Linked DNA regions of Homo sapiens. The protein of the gene in region 1 purifies or fractionates together with the protein of each later gene. This does not show direct contact. Each region holds a gene or a part of one and is shown in the gene's direction. Other genes may lie near its edges.

What was found. The genes of interacting proteins can lie anywhere in the genome.
Region 2: the proteins of MCOLN1 (region 1) and PKN2 fractionate together in Homo sapiens (co-fractionation; one large-scale study listed by BioGRID). This does not show direct contact.
Region 3: the proteins of MCOLN1 (region 1) and PRKAR2A fractionate together in Homo sapiens (co-fractionation; one large-scale study listed by BioGRID). This does not show direct contact.
Region 4: the proteins of MCOLN1 (region 1) and TMEM9B fractionate together in Homo sapiens (co-fractionation; one large-scale study listed by BioGRID). This does not show direct contact.

Annotation. Positions count from the first base shown.
Region 1 is NC_000019.10:7,525,624-7,529,123, forward strand, and holds part of MCOLN1 (mucolipin-1), read left to right. Parts: intron 1-815; coding exon 816-983; intron 984-1,137; coding exon 1,138-1,303; intron 1,304-1,896; coding exon 1,897-2,005; intron 2,006-2,240; coding exon 2,241-2,337; intron 2,338-2,534; coding exon 2,535-2,634; intron 2,635-2,973; coding exon 2,974-3,080; intron 3,081-3,197; coding exon 3,198-3,347; intron 3,348-3,477; coding exon 3,478-3,500. UniProt on the Homo sapiens protein: Nonselective cation channel probably playing a role in the regulation of membrane trafficking events and of metal homeostasis. Acts as a Ca(2+)-permeable cation channel with inwardly rectifying activity.
Region 2 is NC_000001.11:88,690,773-88,694,272, forward strand, and holds part of PKN2 (serine/threonine-protein kinase N2), read left to right. Parts: intron 1-951; exon of another isoform or gene 952-1,008; intron 1,009-3,500. UniProt on the Homo sapiens protein: PKC-related serine/threonine-protein kinase and Rho/Rac effector protein that participates in specific signal transduction responses in the cell.
Region 3 is NC_000003.12:48,767,875-48,771,374, reverse strand, and holds part of PRKAR2A (cAMP-dependent protein kinase type II-alpha regulatory subunit), read left to right. Parts: intron 1-3,500. UniProt on the Homo sapiens protein: Regulatory subunit of the cAMP-dependent protein kinases involved in cAMP signaling in cells. Type II regulatory chains mediate membrane association by binding to anchoring proteins, including the MAP2 kinase.
Region 4 is NC_000011.10:8,947,443-8,950,942, reverse strand, and holds part of TMEM9B (transmembrane protein 9B isoform a precursor), read left to right. Parts: intron 1-2,467; coding exon 2,468-2,623; 3' UTR 2,624-3,500. UniProt on the Homo sapiens protein: Enhances production of pro-inflammatory cytokines induced by TNF, IL1B, and TLR ligands. Has a role in TNF activation of both the NF-kappaB and MAPK pathways.

The DNA of each region.
Region 1 (3,500 bases):
GATAGTTCTCCCTCCCCCATGCCAGACCCTGTGCTGGGCTCTGGGAACCCCAAGATGAATCAGACCCAGCCACTGCCCTAAGTGCTTACTTCATGTTTTGGGCTGACTTTAGCATGTCACCATGCCTCTAATTTTCCCTCTGAAAAGGGACCCAATTGTCCAGGCATGGTGGCTCATGCCTGTAATGCCAGCACTTTGGGAGGCTGAGTTGGGTGGATCATTTGAGGCCAGGAGTTTGAGACCAGCCTGGCCAACATTGCAAAACCCCGTCTCTACTAAAAATACAAAAATTAGCTGGGTTTGGTGGCAGGTACCTGTAACTCAGCTACTCAGGAGGCTGAGACAGGAGAATTGCTTGAACCCAGGGGGTGGAGGTTGTAGTGAGCTGAGATCATACCATGGCACTCCAACTTGGGCAACAGAGTGAGACTCTGTCTCAAAAAAGAAAAGAAAAGGGACCCAGTCATGGTACTTACCCTGAAAGTTTGGGTTTAACACAGAATCGGACATCCAGTAAACATTTAATGAACGTTAGTCCCTGCAGTGAGATAGATGAGTCCCCACCCTGTGTTGTACGGGGGAGGACACAGTGGTGGGCGTGGCATGGAGCTTATGCCAGGAGGTGGGGTGAAATTAATCAAAGCAAAGAAATGCACAAGTGAAATCCGTGTTTGTGGCCCAAGTTAGCAGGGCCCTGCCCCACCCCAGTGGACATCTGCAGGGCCCTCCCTGTCCTCTTCCAGGGCCTGTGCCCTGAGGGAGATACACCCCAACCCCCATCCTAGCCATGCCAACCTCTACTACCCTCTCCCCAGCTCATCCTGTTTGGGCTCAGTAATCAGCTGGCTGTGACATTCCGGGAAGAGAACACCATCGCCTTCCGACACCTCTTCCTGCTGGGCTACTCGGACGGAGCGGATGACACCTTCGCAGCCTACACGCGGGAGCAGCTGTACCAGGCCATCTTCCATGCTGTGGACCAGGTGCTGGTGGGCGGGCAGGTGCTGGTGGGCAGGCAGGTGCAGGTGGGCGGGCAGGTGCAGTTGGGCGGGCAGGTGCTGGTGGGCGGGCAGGTGCAGGTGGGTGGGCTGCAGAGAGCGGGCCGGACTCACAGGCCCTCCCCTTCTCTGCCCACAGTACCTGGCGTTGCCTGACGTGTCACTGGGCCGGTATGCGTATGTCCGTGGTGGGGGTGACCCTTGGACCAATGGCTCAGGGCTTGCTCTCTGCCAGCGGTACTACCACCGAGGCCACGTGGACCCGGCCAACGACACATTTGACATTGATCCGATGGTGGTTACTGGTGAGTGGGCAGGACGAGGCTTCACTGTTGGGAGCCTGAGCTGCTGGGATTAAAATCAACAGCTGTGGCTGGGCACGGTGGCTCACGCCTATAATACCAGCACTTTGGGAGGCTGAGGAGGAAGGATTGCTTGAGGCCAGAAGTTTGAGACCAGCCTGGGCCACGTAGGAAGACCTTGTCTCTACGCACAAACAAATTAGCTGGGCGTGGTGGCGTGCCCCTGTGGTCCCAGCTACTCAGGAGGCTGAGGCAGGAGGATCGCTTGAGTCCGGGAGGTTGAGGCTGCAGTAAGCTATGACCACGCTGCTGCACTCCACCCTGGGTGACAGAGTGAGACCCTGTCTCAAAAAAAAAAAAAAAAAAAAAAAACAAGTATGCTTAGTGTGAGTGTGACTCTTGCCACGTAGAAAGCACCAGATGTTATATTTTAATATGGCTCATTCAGTAAAACATCCGCAGGCCCAGAGAGTGCCAGGCCTGTAGGAATGACCCAACCCTGGGGAAGCACAGGGAAGAAGGCCACTGGGGACTCTGGGGAGACCAGCCTGGCCTCCCCGGCCCCCTGAGGCCCTTCCCTGACTCCCTGTCCTTAGACTGCATCCAGGTGGATCCCCCCGAGCGGCCCCCTCCGCCCCCCAGCGACGATCTCACCCTCTTGGAAAGCAGCTCCAGTTACAAGAACCTCACGCTCAAATTCCACAAGTACTGCCTGCTCACTCGAGGGGGGCCCAGGGTGGGGGAGGCAGCACACTAGGCACTCTCACCCCAGCAACTACTTCCCTAAGGTGGGGACAGGGCCCCCCCGCCCGCGCTGGTGCCTGCTGGGTGAGCACTTCCCCTGCCAGCTGCAGAGTCAGCACGTGGCAGGGGACGCTGGCACTTGGGGCCGGAAGGGACCCGAAGACGCCCCTGACCCTCACCCGAGCCTCCTGCCTAGGCTGGTCAATGTCACCATCCACTTCCGGCTGAAGACCATTAACCTCCAGAGCCTCATCAATAATGAGATCCCGGACTGCTATACCTTCAGCGTCCTGGTGAGGCCCCCCGGGAACCCACAGGGCTCCTGAGTTCCAGGGCAGGGACCTGGTCAGGGAGTGTCTTGGGAGCACTGGCCAAGGGCAAGCGTGCGGGTGATGAGGGAGGGAGCCCGGGGTCTGTCAGGCCACCTGTCATGTGGACCTTGGGGCTTGGGGCTGCCAAGGTTTACTCTGCCCCCAACTGGCCCCCACAGATCACGTTTGACAACAAAGCACACAGTGGGCGGATCCCCATCAGCCTGGAGACCCAGGCCCACATCCAGGAGTGTAAGCACCCCAGTGTCTTCCAGCACGGTGAGCCCCTGAGCCCCAGACCAGCACTGACCAGGGGCCCTGGCCTGTCCTGGGATTCCCCAAGCCCCAGATCAGCGCTGCCTGGGGGCCGTGACCTCCCCAGGAATCCGCTGAGCCTCAGATCAGCACAGACCAGGGACCCCGTCCTGTGCTGAGATCCCCCAAGCCCCAGACCAGCACTGACCGGGGTTCTTGACTCACCCCAAGCAAGCCCTGAGCCCACTGACCAACCAAAACCAGCCGTGCAGCCCCCTAGGTCTCCAGCCTGGCCTGGCACCAATGCTAGCCTCCCAAGGCTCCATGCCATCCTTGGCCCTACCCGCTCTGCCCTCCCCGCAGGAGACAACAGCTTCCGGCTCCTGTTTGACGTGGTGGTCATCCTCACCTGCTCCCTGTCCTTCCTCCTCTGCGCCCGCTCACTCCTTCGAGGCTTCCTGCTGCAGAACGTGAGGCTTCTGCGTCATGTGTGCTGGTGTCCTCCCCGCCTGGCCCTGGGGCGATAAAAGCCAGGGCTTTGAGGGTCCTGTGCCTGGTCAGGCCCTCACCCCGCCTGCCTTCTGCAGGAGTTTGTGGGGTTCATGTGGCGGCAGCGGGGACGGGTCATCAGCCTGTGGGAGCGGCTGGAATTTGTCAATGGCTGGTACATCCTGCTCGTCACCAGCGATGTGCTCACCATCTCGGGCACCATCATGAAGATCGGCATCGAGGCCAAGGTGCGTCCTGCCAACACCCTGGGCCCCAGGTCCCATCCCTGCTGTCAGTGCCTATCCGGGGCCATATCCTCCCCCAGGCCCCCCAAAGGAAGGGCTGGGCCAGATAGGTTGACGCAGCTCCCACCCGCAGAACTTGGCGAGCTACGACGTCTG
Region 2 (3,500 bases), on another chromosome or scaffold:
GATCAAGAAAGCATGGGACAGTGTACTTGATGACAGTAAACACCTTAAATGTGAAGGTAGTGTTGAAGTGCCTCATAAAGATGAGTGGATATACAAGACTTACATAATATTGTTAGGATTTATCTCTTTTAGAAATTTGTCAGTGACTTATCAAATTGGTGAAAGTTTTACTGCCCTGGCTCATAAGTACCTTAATTTAATGGAATGTAGTTATGACAAAATTTGGAATTTATTTTTGATTATAGAAGACATACCACACAATACATGTGCTGAGAGTTTTTTATTTATTTTATTTTTATTTTTATTTTTGAGACAGGATCTCGTTCTGTCACCCAGCTTGAAGTGCAGTGACGTGATCTCGGCTCACTGCAGCCTCTGCCTCCTGGGCTCAAGTGATTCGCCCATCTCAGCCTCCCAAGTAGCTGGTACTATAGGTGTGAGCCATCATGCATGGTTGATTTTTATATTTTTTTGGAGAGACGGGGTTTTGCCATGTTGCCCGGGTTGGTTTTGAACTGCTGGACTCAAGCAGTCCACCTGCCTTGGCCTCCCAAAGTGCTAGGATTACAGATGTGAGCGTCTGTGCCTGGCCTGAGTATCATATATTTTACACATTAATCATACTGTTTTCCCTTCCCTGTAGTTGCTACCTTAGGGATTCTTTAAGGAGGTGTTTGTTCTCCATTTCAGAATTTTCATTGAACAAATTTTATGCAACTTTTGGATTTTTAAAAAATTTGTTAAACATCAGGCACACTGCATTGGATTAATCACCTATCTGTCTGTCAATCATTTTAATAAGTACTCATGGACCACCACTCCCCCTCTCTCAAAACAAGCTAGGAACTTTAACCTACGTATAGTTTTCCTCTATTCTATCCGTCTATTTCCACCTTCTTGTCATCTAGGTCATCATTTTTGAGTCCTGTGTTCATTCTCTTCCTTATATAGTAGTCCCTCCTTATCCACGGTTTCAGTTACCCATGGTCAACTGTGGTCCAAAAATAGGTGAGTACAGTATAGTACTATAAGATATTTATAAGTACTAAGATACTTTGAGAGAAACCACACTCATAACTGTAATTACAGTATAGTTATAATTGTTCTATTTTATTATTAGTTATTGTTAATTGCTTACTGTGCCTAATTTATAAATTAAACTTTAGCATAAGTATGTATGTTAAAGGAAAAGTGTAAATAGAGTTTAGTACTGTTCGTGGTTTTAGGCATTTACTGAAGGTCTCTCGGTGGATAAAAGGAGACTACTGTGTATAGTTTAGTTGGACATATAAATCTAAACATCTTTTAGTTGTTTGTATAGAATTGTGAATATAATCTTTTTGAACTTGATTTTTCACCTGTTATAAATAAGATTTATCCACATTTTTGCATGTTGCTATAGTCATTATTTAAATTGCTATATAATATTTCATTGAGTAAAATATTCATTAACTCTACTTTGGTGGATATTTGGATATTTATCCACTCTCCCTTGTTGGGCAGTTATTTTCCATTTTTTGTTTTGTTTTGTTTGTAATTATAAGCAAAGATCCTATGGACAGTCTGCATGTTTCCTACTGTGCATGTGCCACAGTTCCTATTATATACCTAGAGGTAGCATTGCTGCCTCACAGGGTAGGTGAATGTTCAACTTAAGAGATGATGCAGAACTTTCAATATGGTTGCACCAATTTATATTCATATTAGCAATATATGAAATAAAAGATCCTTTGGTTATCCATCCTCTCCAACACTTGATATTCTCTTTTTAAGTTTTACAAATCATAAGGGTGTAAAATGTTGCCTTATTGTGGTCTTGATGCGCATTTTCCTGGTTATCACTGATGTAGAACACTTCTTTTTATGTTTGTCGGCCTTTTTACGTGGCTTCTTCAGTGAAATTCCTATTTATGTCTCTTGCCTATTTTTGTTTTTCTTACTAGTTTATAAGAGTTCTTTATATTGCTTATGTTAATCCTCTGTGTACATTGTGAATGTCTTCTTTCAGTTCCTAACTTTTTCGCTTTCTTTTATGGAGTTGTGTGGGAGGGACAGTTTTAAATGCCTCTACCTTCTTTGGCAAATATTTGGAATAATTTACATCGTTATCATCAACAGGCTTGTATTTAATATCTATTGTACATTTGGTATAGAAAGGGTAAAGTTATATTAATAGTTTATGGCCTGGGGATTTGTAAACTATCCAAATGAACAGCCATAGGAAGTTGTATAAAATATTGTATTGCTTCACACATGCTAGGCACCCAAATGCTAGGTTGATTTAGTTAATGAGTAAATTCAGAAGCAAAGAAATAGCAAAAATTATACATACACTTCATCAGTTGCTTATTTTCCAATTCCATACCTCTCTGTTGCAAACTACTTATTATTAGTCATTAATAATATTTTATTCTTTTGTTTAAAGGGCAGTATATTCCGTAAGATTATGTGAGTCAGTTATTTAGGTATTTTCATAGCTTGCCATTAAAATGCTGGAGTTGATCAGATTTAATACTGGATATAAAGCAAAATATTAATCTTCTGAACAGTTTACTAGTTCAGAAGTTTACAAACTCGGAATCCTAAATACAGTTTTTGTCATTGCTGTGCATCTTTTGATAAAAAAAATTCTTAAGTCAAATTTGTCCATTGTTTATCATACAGTAAGTCCTCACTTAATGTCATTGACGGGTTCTTGGAAACTGACTTTAAGCAAAATAACTTATAATGAAACCAGTTTCTTTTTTCTCATCAGTGTTCTAAGGAAATGATATTATAAACAATGAAACATTAGCCAGAAGTGGTGATGCACACCTGTAGTCCCAGCTACTTTGGAGGTGGAGGTGAGAGAATGACTTGAGCCCAAGAGTTAAGGCTGCAGTGAGCTGGAATCGTGTCATTGCACTCTAACCTGGGCAGCATAGTGAGACCCTGTCTCAAAAAAAGAAAGAAAAGAAATGATATTGAGCGAAACAGCATTATTAAAGGACCTGAAGCACATTGTTTTTCTTAAAGTCTCAGTTCCAAGAACCTATCAGCAGTGTTAAGTGAGGACTTACTGTAATTGCTTTTCATGCCCTTTTAAATAAATTATTCCCTATCCTGGGTTTAAAAGATAGCTACCCAAGTTTGCTCCTAAGAATCTTGCAGTTTTATTTTTTAGATTTAAGTCAGTTTATCTGGATTTGTTGTTTTTTAATAGACTTCATATTTTAAAGCAGTTTTAGGTCCACAGCAAAATCGAGAGGAAGGTCTAGAGATTTCTCAAATAACTGCGTCCCTACATATGTACATATGCATTATCGACATCCTCCACAAGAGTACATTTGTTGCAGTTGATGAACCTATATTGACACATCATCATCATCCAGAGCCCAGAGTGCACACATCTTGGTGTTGTGCATTCTATGGGTTTGTACAAATGTATAATGACATGTATCCAGCATTATAGTATACAGAATAGTGTCCCTGCACTAAGCTTATTCTCTGTGTTCTACCTA
Region 3 (3,500 bases), on another chromosome or scaffold:
CACCACACCTGTCTTTTTGTTGTTGTTGTTGTTGAGACAGAGTCTCACTATGTTGCTCAGGCTGGTCTTGAACTTCTGGGCTCAAGCAGTCCTCCTGCCTTGGCCTCCCAAAGTGCTGGAATTACAGGCATGAGCCACTGTGCCCAGCCAAATAACACATTCTTTCTTTTTTTTCTTTTTTGAGATGATCTTGGCTCACTGCAACCTCTGCCTCCTGGGTTCAAGCGATTCTCCTACCTCGGCCTCCTGAGTAGCTGGGATTACAGACGTGTGCACATGTGCCACCACGCCCAGCCAATTTTTGTATTTTTAGTAGAAATGGAGTTTCACCATGTTGGCCAGGCTGGTCTCGAACTCCTGACCTCAGGTGATCTGCCCACCTCGGCCTCCCAAAGTGCTGGGATTACAGGCAAGAGCCACCGCACCCGGCCAAATAACCCATTCTTGGATAATCTCTAAGACCAAGTCTCAATGAAAATTGAAAACTGTATATTGAGCTGTAAAACCACCTGCTTTGTGGCTGGGGTATGAGGATTAAATACATGGGCATAAGAGAAGTGACTCCCTTAGTGCCTGGTACAAGGTGGGTGTTCACAGAATGATGGCACAAGCTCCCCATGGCCATGGTGCTACTCACCACCCTTCTTTTCCTGAGACTTCCTTTCCTAAGACTCCTATTCTTTCTATTTCCTTGCCTTTGGCAGTCATTTCCTCTTCTCCTTGCTTTCTTAGGTCAGTGACCTATCAAGATATCCTTTTGGCCTCTACTTTTCTCCTGTTAATTGACTTGCTTTGCAAGCCCAGACTCTTCCAAAGCTTCAATACCACCTCTAGGAAAGTAACTCACAGAAGGTCCTCTCCAGCCTGACTTCTTCTTTGGCCTTGGAAATGCCTTCTGAGGTTGAAGTAGGGAGGATCTGGTGTCGTCACTGAGTTTTTCAAGTTGGATCCTACATTCCTGCTTTTATAATGGGCAGCTGCCATCACGGCCCCTATACGTAGTCTCTTTTGCTTTCTCTTGCTTTATTGAAAGTCAATAGAAGGTTTCCTGGGAAATTCCTGCAGTCACAGGAGAGAGTAGCACTCCTTTTCTCTTTTGAACTTCAGGGGTGTTTGCTTGCCTCTGACCACTTGCTGCCTGTGGGAATTTCCTCTTCACTGCTCGATTGGATGCTCATCAAAGGCTATGTTGATGTCTGGTGCTTTTTTTATATTCTCCACAGCCATGGGAACTGGCCTTGCACCACATGAAAAGAGAGTTTTGGGAAGTGTTAAAGCATGCGTAAAAAGGGGTAGAACCAGCTGGGTGTGGTGACTCATGATGTAATCCCAGTACTTTGGGAGGCCACGGTGGGCAAATCACATGAGCCTAGGAATTCAAGACCAGCATGGGCAACGTGGTGAAACCCTGTCTCTATGAAAAATAAGAAATTAGCTGATGTGGCGGCACATGCCTGTAGTCCCAGCTACTTGGGACGCTGAGTTGGGAGGATCACCTGGGCCTAAGAGGTCAAGGCTGCAGTGAGCTGTGATCATGCCACTACACTCCAGCCTGCTGAGTGACAGAGTGAGACTCTGTCTCAAAAAAAAAAAGTCGCTTGCCGGGCGTAGTGGCTCGTGCCTGTAATCCCAGCACTTCGGAGGCCAAGGTGGGCAGATCACCTGAGGTCAGGAGTTGGAGACCAGCCTGACAAACATGGAGAAACCCTGTCTCTACTAAAAAATACAAAATTAGCTGGGCATGGTGGCGCATGCCTATAATCCTAGCTACTCTGGAAGCCAAGGCAGGAGAATCACTTGAACCTGGGAGACGGAGGTTGCGGTGAGGCAAGATTGCGCCATTGCACTCCAACCTGGTCAACAAGAACGAAACTCCATCTCAAAAAAAAAAAAAGTCGCTGTAAGAGATATTTGTTGTGGTCGGGCACAGTGGCTCACGCCTGTAATACCAGCACTTTGGGAGGCCAAGGCGGGCGGATCATGAGGTCAGGAGATTGAGACCATCCTGGCTAACACGGTGAAACCCCGTCTCTACTAAAAATACAAAAAATTAGCCGGGCGCGGTGGCAGGCGCCTGTAGCCCCAGCTACTCAGGAGGCTGAAGCAGGAGAATGGCGTGAACCAGGGAGGCGGAGCTTGCAGTGAGCCGAGATTGTGCCACTGCACTCCAGCCTGGGTGGCAGAGCGAGACTCTGTCTCAAAAAAGAAAAAAAAAAAGAAAGATATTTGTTGTTTTCTCTTTAGTTAGAAATCTGTTGTTGTTGTTGTTGTTTTTGAGATGGACTCTTGCTCTGTCATCCAGGCTGGAGTCCAGTGGCATTATCTCGGCTCACTGCAACCTCCGCCTCCAGGATTCAAGCAATTCTCCTGCCTCAGCCTCCTGCATAGCTGGGATTATAGGCATGTGCCAACAGTACTGGCTAATTTTTTATATTTTTGGTAGAGATGGGAATTCACCATGTTGGCTAGGCTGGTTTCGAACTCCTGACCTCAAGTGATCCACCCACCTCAGCCTCCCAAAGTGCTGGGATTACAGGCGTGAGCCATGCGCCCAGCCGAAATATTGTTTGCTATTGCAATTGTACTAATCTTTGTTACACTGTAGGTGGATTTGTAAAATATTGGGAGTTAACTTTGCTGCCCTCTGTGTATTTTTTAATATTTATTTATTTATTTATTTTGAGACGGAGTCTCTGTTGCCCAGGCTGGAGTATAGTGGTGTGATCTCGGCTCACTGCATCCTCTGCCTCCAGGGTTCAAGTAATTCTCATGCCTCAGCCTCCCAAGTAGCTGGGACTATAGGTGTACACCACCATGCCCAGCTAATTTTTGTATTTGTAGTAGACACGAGATTTCACCATGTTGGCCAGGCTGGTCTCGAACTCCTGACCTCAAGTGATCCACCCACTTTGGCCTCCCAAAATGCTGGGATTATAGGTGTGAGCCACTGTGCCAGGCCTTTTATTTTATCTATCTATGTATCTATGTATGTGTGTGTGTGTGTCTGTCTGTCTGTCTCTCTGTCTGTCTATATCTATCTATCTATCTATCTATCTATCTATCTATCTATCTATCTATCTTTTGAGACGGTCTCACTCTGTTGGCCAGGCTGGAGTGCAGTGGTGCTCTCACACCTCACTGCAACTTCGCCTCCCAGGGCTCAAGCAATCCTCCCACCTCTGCCTCCCCAGTAACTGGGACCACAAGTGCACGCCACCACGCCTGGCTAATTTTTGTATTTTTTGTACAGATGGGTTTCGCCATGTTGCCCAGGCTGTTCTCAAACTTCTGGGCTCAAACAATCCACCCACCTCCCCACCTCAGCCTCCCAAAGTGCTGGGAATACAGTCGTGAGCCACTGTTCCCAGCCTGTATGGGTTTTTTTTAAATAAATAAATAAAATATTGGGGTTTTCTGTTTTTGTGGGGTTTTTTTGTTTGTTTTTTTTTTTGAGATGGAGTCTCGCTCTGTCTCCCAGGCTAGAGTGCAGTGGTGTGATC
Region 4 (3,500 bases), on another chromosome or scaffold:
TAAGTGAATTTTAATTTTTAAAACTGTTGCTTATCCAAGATGTGAGTTCTGCACTATTTATATACTTTAAAAATGTTTTTGTTGAACTATCAGTTTTCATTTTTTCTGTTTTTGTTCAGTGTAGAGCATTTTAAAGCAAATAAAAGTGAGTACAAATAGTTAAGCTCACTGCAAGTAGTCACAATATTTACTATATCATATATCCATGACACATCATCGTTATTACCAAAGCATTACAGTAAAACATGTTTTGTATTTATTGTAATTTTATCAGGTGTGAAAAGAACAAACATAAAAAGGGTAAATCTCTATTTGCATTCCCCCAGCATCTGTGACCATGAGCAGCTAGTTCAATCTCGTTCTGATGGATAGAGAGCAGACCCAAAGGATTAGCTGGTTTGTTTAGTCTTTTGAACTTGTTCCTTAAGAAGATTTTTCTCCCCTACCTTGAAGAATAGATAACAGCACTAGGCAACTGAGAGGTCCTCTGCCGATCAAGTACATCCTTCTTCCCAGTATTGCTTATGTCAAAACAAACCAATGGTGATAATATTTTCCTCCTCTGGTCCTTGACTTCAGGGGATGATATTTTATACACAAATTCACTGAAGCACCATATTCTTATAGTGTCATTTTAATCTACCTGACCAAAATCTGTTTTGAGACAATATAACACCAAGTCAGGGTTAGGCAGGCTAAGTTTTAGTCTTTATGCTAATTTGTTAAATGACCTTGGGTCAATTTATTGCCATAATGGAAAATCAAGCAATTCTATAACTTTAGCCTGCCTCCTTTTTTTTTTTCTTTTTTAGCTTTTTTCTTACATTTTTTAAAACATTTTAAGCCTCATGAAATTGCCTTTATTATTTTCATTTGTAAGGTTAAAAGTTTAAAAATAGGCTATAGGTCCCAGCTACTTGGGACGCTGAGGCAGGAGGATCACTTGAGGCCAGGAGTTCAAGGCTGCAGTGAGCTGTGATCACACCTGTGAATAGCCCCTGCCTTCCAGCCTGGGCAACATGGGTAGACCCTATTTCAAAAAAAAAAAAAAAATTAAGTTCATGGCCAGTCTGGGCAATATAGTGAGACCCCATCTCTTTAAAAAAAAAAAATCCACTTTTTAAATAACTTGAGTTTTAGGATTTGTACAAGCCATTACCTAAATAAAGTGAAAAGTTGAAGGAATTTTGACAAAGAAGAGGAGGAAAGATTCTTTATAAAAACTCTTTGATATCTTTCAAATGTAGACATTGTATAAATGCCTTGCTATAAAAACAAGACCAGGTGTTCTAACTCCTATAATTATAGTTGTATATATAGTTATGTGGTTATGTATATAGCTTTCCATATACATGCAGACTCCTGCCCTGGATATATAATAGAGCTTTTTCAAACATGCACAGCAAAATAATGTTGTTTCTCTCCTAGAGGCAAAGTTTAGTATAAGAGGTACAACTTGTGACTTGGATCTTCTGTTGGAACATTGAGAAGCTTTGCTAACACGGGGTTCAAGAAAAAGAGATCAAGGAAAAGGCAAACAAAAGCAATAAATTACTATTGAATGCTTTTTGTCATTTAGACAGCTGTGTTTATATCTCATTCATAGATAGATTAGCATGGTGGTTTCCTGTGTAATGACTACAAACATCCAGTTGTACTCGTTTACTTTGACCAGGTTAGGTTGGTTTTCTATACAGATACCTGGGCAACCCTTCAATAGCCTCTTTCCCAAGGCAGCAACTTACATGGAAGCCACTGGGTGCTTAACAATGGAAGATTCAATCTTTGTTGAATAGAGAGGGTGATTGTAGCACTTGAGCTGTGTCTCTTTTCATTACACATTGGGGAAGTGGGGAAATGAGGAAGCTTTTGGAAGCTAATCCATTTAGTGTGTGTGTTGAGGGTACAGGGAGAGATTAAAAACAACCCAAGATAAGACTCTGTCGCTCACCCTCCCAGAGTGATGTGGCCCCAAGCTGGCAAGAAAACAATTCTAATGGAGACAGGAAATTAAAAGACAGATCTTTCCTCTGCCACAGATTAGCTTTATAGTATCGAATAAAGCAAGGAAAGACCCTACTTTCCATATCTATAACATGGAGAGATGTTAACATGAAAATAGATTTTCTTTTCCCTATCAGTTAAGGAAGGCTTCTCTTTAACACAAATGACCACTGTCTTTTGCTTGGTCTCCACTTCTTTAAGGGAAATATCTTTGGAAATGGCAATCCATGGGAACGTTTCACAAATACTCTGTCATCGCTTATGTTTCTTGAACCACCTAGGTCTGTACTTGAGTTCATACTCTATCTGGTAGTTGAGCGCTTAGGAGTGCTTAGCTAAATAGATGCTCTGTTGTTTGAAAAGTCCACCTACCCCTATTTCTGTGGCGGGCTGGTCACTGTTGTGTGTCTATGTTTTACACTGACTGTGCCATCTCTAATGTTCTCCATTCCTGGACTTTTAGGATCACCAGCCTTTTGCAAATGCACACGATGTGCTAGCCCGCTCCCGCAGTCGAGCCAACGTGCTGAACAAGGTAGAATATGCACAGCAGCGCTGGAAGCTTCAAGTCCAAGAGCAGCGAAAGTCTGTCTTTGACCGGCATGTTGTCCTCAGCTAATTGGGAATTGAATTCAAGGTGACTAGAAAGAAACAGGCAGACAACTGGAAAGAACTGACTGGGTTTTGCTGGGTTTCATTTTAATACCTTGTTGATTTCACCAACTGTTGCTGGAAGATTCAAAACTGGAAGCAAAAACTTGCTTGATTTTTTTTTCTTGTTAACGTAATAATAGAGACATTTTTAAAAGCACACAGCTCAAAGTCAGCCAATAAGTCTTTTCCTATTTGTGACTTTTACTAATAAAAATAAATCTGCCTGTAAATTATCTTGAAGTCCTTTACCTGGAACAAGCACTCTCTTTTTCACCACATAGTTTTAACTTGACTTTCAAGATAATTTTCAGGGTTTTTGTTGTTGTTGTTTTTTGTTTGTTTGTTTTGGTGGGAGAGGGGAGGGATGCCTGGGAAGTGGTTAACAACTTTTTTCAAGTCACTTTACTAAACAAACTTTTGTAAATAGACCTTACCTTCTATTTTCGAGTTTCATTTATATTTTGCAGTGTAGCCAGCCTCATCAAAGAGCTGACTTACTCATTTGACTTTTGCACTGACTGTATTATCTGGGTATCTGCTGTGTCTGCACTTCATGGTAAACGGGATCTAAAATGCCTGGTGGCTTTTCACAAAAAGCAGATTTTCTTCATGTACTGTGATGTCTGATGCAATGCATCCTAGAACAAACTGGCCATTTGCTAGTTTACTCTAAAGACTAAACATAGTCTTGGTGTGTGTGGTCTTACTCATCTTCTAGTACCTTTAAGGACAAATCCTAAGGACTTGGACACTTGCAATAAAGAAATTTTATTTTAAACCCAAGCCTCCCTGGATTGATAATATATACACATTTGTCAGCATTTCCGGTCGTGGTGAGAGGC